2 linked regions of the Homo sapiens genome follow. The protein of the gene in region 2 purifies or fractionates together with the protein of the main gene of each other region. This does not show direct contact. Each region holds a gene or a part of one and is shown on either strand. Other genes may lie near its edges.

The links. Proteins that work in one complex are often made in the same cells at the same time.
Region 1: the proteins of ING3 (region 2) and RSRC1 purify together in Homo sapiens (affinity purification with mass spectrometry; one large-scale study listed by BioGRID and IntAct). This does not show direct contact.

What each region holds. Positions count from the first base shown.
Region 1 is NC_000003.12:158,543,160-158,546,230, reverse strand, and holds the end of RSRC1 (serine/Arginine-related protein 53), read right to left. Parts: intron 2,897-3,071; coding exon 2,744-2,896; intron 2,049-2,743; coding exon 1,956-2,048; 3' UTR 501-1,955; downstream 1-500. UniProt on the Homo sapiens protein: Has a role in alternative splicing and transcription regulation. Involved in both constitutive and alternative pre-mRNA splicing. May have a role in the recognition of the 3' splice site during the second step of splicing.
Region 2 is NC_000007.14:120,967,777-120,971,276, forward strand, and holds part of ING3 (inhibitor of growth protein 3), read left to right. Parts: intron 1-157; coding exon 158-315; intron 316-1,234; coding exon 1,235-1,428; intron 1,429-2,911; coding exon 2,912-3,104; intron 3,105-3,424; exon of another isoform or gene 3,425-3,500. UniProt on the Homo sapiens protein: Component of the NuA4 histone acetyltransferase (HAT) complex which is involved in transcriptional activation of select genes principally by acetylation of nucleosomal histones H4 and H2A.

The sequences.
Region 1 (3,071 bases), on a different chromosome or scaffold from region 2:
CCAGCTACTCAGGAGGCTGAGGCAGGAGAATGGCATGAACCTGGGAGGCGGAGCTTGCAGTGAGCCGAGATCGCACCAATGCACTCCAGCCTGGATGACAGAGTAAGACTCTGTCTCAAACCACCGCCCTCCCCCCCAAAAAAAACCCCAAAAAACAATTCTGTCACAGTTCAAGCTTCTGTATTTGGGGTACTTGCCACAGAGGAACACTGGTATTAAATATAATTGAAGTAGACCAGATTTTCACTGTTTTATAGATAAGGAAGATCAGGGATATTGAGAAAACTGCCTAGCCCAGGTCCTCTGGAGAATCATTAGTGGCCCAAATGATAACCCATATTCTTGCCCAGACCACTAACATATACTTTCCAATAGGGTGATAGTACTTCTATAGTTTATAAGTTATACAAAGTATGAAATAAAAATATTTCATAAACTGTAACCCCTTTTTAAGTCACTAAAATTGTATACATCTATGTTAAAAACCACACAAATCTCGGTTCATTTGGGGCACTTTTATTTACAGCCAAGGAAAAAAGAAAACTAGCATCTATTTAGAATGGGAAAGCATGTTTGTATGAAAACAAATATTTCATCATCACTTATTTTCTATACTGTTTGCAACTAAGTTTTACATTTTTCATTTTCAACAGAGATTTGAATTTTAATGTCCCAGAAATATAAAGAAGATGGCATTAAAATGTCCTATATGTTGGCAGTCCTACCCTGAAGACTTTTTTTGCTTATCTTTTGTTCTGAGCTACAGTCTTCGCAGAGACTAAATTAGTGACTGGACAACAGAAGAAAATAGACCATCCTGGCTAAAATGGTGAAACCCCATCTCTACTAAAAACACAAAAAATTAGCTGGGCATGTTAGCGGGTGCCTGTAGTCCCAGCTACTCGGGAGGCTGAGGCAAGAAAATGGCGTGAACCTGGGAGGCGGAGCTTGCAGTGAGCTGAGATCGCGCCACTGCACTCCAGCATGGGGGATAGAGCGAGACTCCGTCTCAAAAAAAAAAAAAAAAAAAAAAAAAAGAAAATAGAAACGGGAAATATTCATGTCAGCTGTTAAAAACCAGTTTTGTAAAGCAAGGCCTAAAAGTCCTATCTCTGGCATGTTTAGTATGGAACGTATAGTTGATTGTCATTCAGCTACTAGAGAAAGGTATTCTACAATGGCAGATAGCCTTATCAAAACAATTAGCCGGCTTTCTCCACAGGGAATAGCAGTGGGGTAAGTAAGACTGAAGTGAGAGCTCTTATCAGTTTTCTCAGAAATGATTTCTCCATCATAGGTATTTGGCCAACTGGTTAGGTCTAGCATGAACATGTGATTTCTAAAACAATGAGCTGAGATCTGCTAACATGTTGTAAAGGAGCATCTAGTAGAAGCTGATCTCTAAGCAAAATCACCAATTTATTTAAGTTTCAAAAATTTTTTTTCCATAAATATGTTCTTTAACATGCACATTCTGCTTACATTGTTTAGGGTGCTTTTTATTGTGCCTAAAAATTTGCAATATGGTGAAATAAAATATTTAAAAATGGTTGAATACCATACGGAAGATGAAATCTCATATTTATAGCATGTAATTCAATTCTCATGTATGCATAATTAATCAAAATTGTGTCTTTAAATGACATCTTGACATTTTTTGAATTGCACTAAGAAACACTAGTGTCTACCATTCATTTTAACAGACTTATTTATGTTTAGCTTTATTAACAGTATAACATTTTCATGCAATCTTAAATTTTGTTTTAATTTTTACAATGTTTGATTTAATTCAAATTAACAAATATTCAAGCCTACATGAGAGACAAATGAAATGAGACTACCTTTATATATAATCAGCAAAATTCTTTTTAAGAGTAAAAAGTTAATATTGGGATTTAAAAACCTAAATTTCCAATGTTACTGCTGACAATCCAATCCAACTATATGTATATTACTTAGGCCACAGGACTGCCCATTAGTCTTTCTTGTCGGAGAGCAATTAATCTCTTGAACCATTTTTCCTCAGCATCAGCTTTCTCGATAAATAACTGAAATAAGAAAAGAAAAAGAAAAAATGTTACTGTCTCCCAATAACTTGAATTTGACCTAAAATGACAGAACTCACCTTTGTAGAATATATCTCTCAACACAAGATTTGGATACTGTTTAACTCTTGATGACCTCTTAATTGATGACTATCTATTTGGAATTAGTAATGCTCAGAAATTCTTGGAGTAAAAGAACTACTAGTATCAACATCATTGCTTAACAATTTTGTACCTTATATTTGTGAAGTTTATTTCCTATAACTTTTCCAAAACAGCAGAATTACAACATTTCATGGAAGACAGCAAAGTATGATGTTAGTGATGTGCTCACTGATAATGAACAAAGTAGAGCTCAGAAATGGAACTTTTAGTGCTAGATTTTTAAACAAACACTTCTCATGGTGCTGATCAATTCAGCTAAAAAAAAAAAAAAGGAAAAAATGCTTCTCTTTGTCTATTTTTCTTAACCATAGACAGAATACTTCTACAGGTTAGGCAACATGAGTTGGACCCTACTGTATTCAAATATAGATAACAGTTCTAAAGGCCTGGGGGCCAGATGCCTATTTTTAGCAAGGGAATATGAACCTGTTTCCTCCAATGGTCTCCTTGGTGTTAGCACAAAAGGATAACAGATTGAAATAATTTCAGTAAATTAGACTTCAACTGACATTCGTAAAGTTTAAGGATATTACATTTGGATGGGCCAGGGAATTGTCATCTTGGTACTTGATAGCAGTAGGGATGCTGGTAGGATCTATTTCTTTTTCAGTACTGGGTGGATCAGCAACTGCTGATGCTGGTCCTGATGTTGAAGTTGCTTGTTTCACTTCACTAGGTTCCACTGACTGAAAGAAACAACACATATTAATTTCAACACAATACACAATTAGAGTTTTACTTCAAAAATATTTCTGATTTTGAATAACAACTGTTCAATTAGTCTCCTTTGAGATGATACCCATCTCCAAAAAGGCCCTACTTTTTGTATTTGTTTGTTTTAGAAATACAGTTATTTTATTT
Region 2 (3,500 bases):
AAAAAGGAAAACCAAATACATTATTCAGTTGACTTAATGTACAAGTGACATTAAAAATTTTAATGATTATATGTCTGTGCTGGGAAATAATGTAATTTAGACTCACTAACATTATGTTCTCTGCAACCATTTTTATTTCTTTTTTACATCTACACAGGTTGTCGAAATAATAATTCCACAGCCTCTTCTAACAATGCCTACAATGTGAATTCCTCCCAACCTCTGGGATCCTATAACATTGGCTCGTTATCTTCAGGAACTGGTGCAGGGGCAATTACCATGGCAGCTGCTCAAGCAGTTCAGGCTACAGCTCAGGTAAAAAGTAAAGGGTTTAGAGACAAAATGTTACATTTTGTCGGAATCATTGGAAACCTAATAGAAATAACGGGATGTGAACAAATAGTTTTCTAACGTTGTATATTTTCATTTTTAAGTCATGATTTCACGATATGTGATATTTTATTTAATGAAATAATACATAGGAATTGCCTGATTGATAATGAAAACTAAAAAATAGGTTTATCATGCGGATTACATGCAGACCCTTCTCACAATAACTGCTCATGTTGCCCATGTTCTTGACTGCAGTCCACAGCACATGCTAGCATAGTTCTTCGTTCTTTCTGCCAGTTCCAAGGCTTCCCCTGTAGCCTTGGACTTAGGTCATCTTGAGTTTGTTCACTTCTGTATAGTTTGCCTATATTCCAAATTAAGAAGCTGCCCATCCCATAGTTTATATTCTAACTGTGTAAAATCTTATTTTAAATCTTTAAATGAAAAAGGTTAGGCCAGGCATGGTGACTCACACCTGTAATCCCAGCTCTTTGATAGGCCGAGGCAGGTGGATCACTTGAGGTCAGGAGTTCAAAACCAGCCTGGTCAACATGGTGAAACTCCATTTCTACTAAAAATACAAAAAAATTAGCTGGGTGCCTGGTGGGTGCCTGTAATCCCAGCTACTCGGTAGGCTATGGCAGGAGAATTGCTTGAACCTGAGAGGTGGAGGTTGCAGCGAGCCAAAATCGTGCCACTAGACTCCAGCCCAAGCGACAGATTGAAACTCCACCTCAAAAAAAAAAAAAAAAAAAAGCTTAAATTCCAGTGATGAAAATAATAGTTTAAACAATATAAATTAACATTTGATAAACCAAAATAAAACTATAATTTGTAAAACTTGAAAAAGAAAATCTACATATTTACATATATTGATGCTATCAATGAATGTCTATTTAAGATGAAGGAGGGACGAAGAACATCAAGTTTAAAAGCCAGTTATGAAGCATTTAAGAATAATGACTTTCAGTTGGGAAAAGAATTTTCAATGGCCAGGGAAACAGTTGGCTATTCATCATCTTCGGCACTTATGACAACATTAACACAGAATGCCAGTTCATCAGCAGCCGACTCACGGAGTGGTCGAAAGAGCAAGTAAGTTTTATTGTTACAGTAGCCCTATACCTTTACTGAACACTTGGTCTACTTGACACTTCAGCCAGGCCTCTCTATGTTAAAGGCAGGATATAACGGATTAAAATTAACCTTGCAGAGGTAGGGAGACATGCGGTTTTCATTTTATAGTGCCATACTTTGAAGGTGTCAAGTCTTTAAAAAGTGTTAGAGTTGTTTTTAATTTTTCTAGAGTCATAAATTGAGTTTGTTAATACATGACTTCTTTTTATCTTCTTTTATTCATTAAGATAAATCATTTTATGGAACTGCTTTTCATTTATTACCCTTTATTTTGCCATGTGTTTCAAGGTAAATTAATGCAATGCAAATTATATCCTGGTGATTTTTTTTTTTTAAACAAGATTTTTCATTTTGATTAACAGCAAGCAAGGCGTCTTCATTCTTAGTCTTGGGTCCCAAAAACTGATGGTGTAAAAATATCCCTAGATTTTGTATATGAGACTTGGGATGACTGTATAAGCTTTAAATATGAAAACCTAATAGCATTTATCACTGTCTATCCCAGGTAACTGAATATGCTGGGTGTTTATACATAATGAAAGTTCAAATGCTAGGCCAAAATAATTAGTTACCTAGTAGTTATATTTTCTGTATTTTAAAATATGTTATATTTTTTGTGAATTAATCCCTTAAAGAACGATCAATATGAAATAACCACAACAGAAGTGTCAAACATCTTAAAAATTAATTCATCTTAATGGTACAAGTTTAATGTAATTTCTTATGATAAAGTTCTATACTTTTAGAATTTAAATAGCATAGGGCTTAGCAGTAAATTACTTGTGAATTTTTACAGTCTTGGTTCCCTGCCATACTCATGGTAGGTATTCACACATCAGTTGATGGTTATAACCACTTTCATCAAATGTTTTTGTGTGTGTGTGCTTTAGGTTTTGATGAAGAGTATTCAGTTTACTTAAAAATACGAATAATGAGTGGCTGGGCGGGGTGGCTCATGCCTATAATCCCAGCACTTTGGGAGGCCGAGGTGGGCAGATCACGAGGTCAGGAGATCGAGACCATCCTGGCTAACACGATGAAACCCCATCTCTACTAAAAATACAAAAAATTAGCCAGGCATGGTGGCGGGCGCCTGTAGTCCCAGCTACTCGGGAGGCTGAGGCAGGAGAATGGCGTGAACCTGGGAGGTGGAGCTTGCGGTGTGCAGAGATCGCGCCACTGCACTCCAGTCTGGGCAACAGAGCGAGACTCCATCTCAAAAAAAAAAAAAAAATACAAATAATGTCTGTAAAGTAGCCAGAACTTATGTTAATTCTTCAAAGTACTACCTACAATTTAAGTCATTGGTAAATCCGGATTACTTTAGCTTACACTTTAATTTATACATTTGATGTCATTTCATTTTATACTATTTATTTAGGAGTTATTCTCAGTTAACTTCTGGATGGTGAGCAAATAAAACTTATACTATTTTTTTCAGAAACAACAACAAGTCTTCAAGCCAGCAGTCATCATCTTCCTCCTCCTCTTCTTCCTTATCATCGTGTTCTTCATCATCAACTGTTGTACAAGAAATCTCTCAACAAACAACTGTAGTGCCAGAATCTGATTCAAATAGTCAGGTTGATTGGACTTACGACCCAAATGAACCTCGATACTGCATTTGTAATCAGGTAAAAGTCTGTTATATCTATAAAAGTATAATCTGAATAAACTAGAAGGAAGAGAACTATTTCATTTTTAAGCACTTTTTTAAACTCACTTAAAATACCTTTGCTTTATTTGTATACTTTTCTCCCCCTTCTTACAAAAGTGACATTTGCTGTAAATACTGAGTATAAAGAAAAATGTTACCCATAATCCTAGCCCTCAGATACAACCTGTAACTAAACATTTTTGGTATACCACTACCATATACCTCATGTGCACATTGGCTGCCTTAATAAAATACAACAGACTGGGTAGCTTAAACAACAGAAAATAATTTTCTCACAGGTATGAAGGCTGGGAAGTCCAAGATCAAGGTGTCCACTGACTCAGTTCTGGAGGAGGGCTCCCTTCCTAGATGG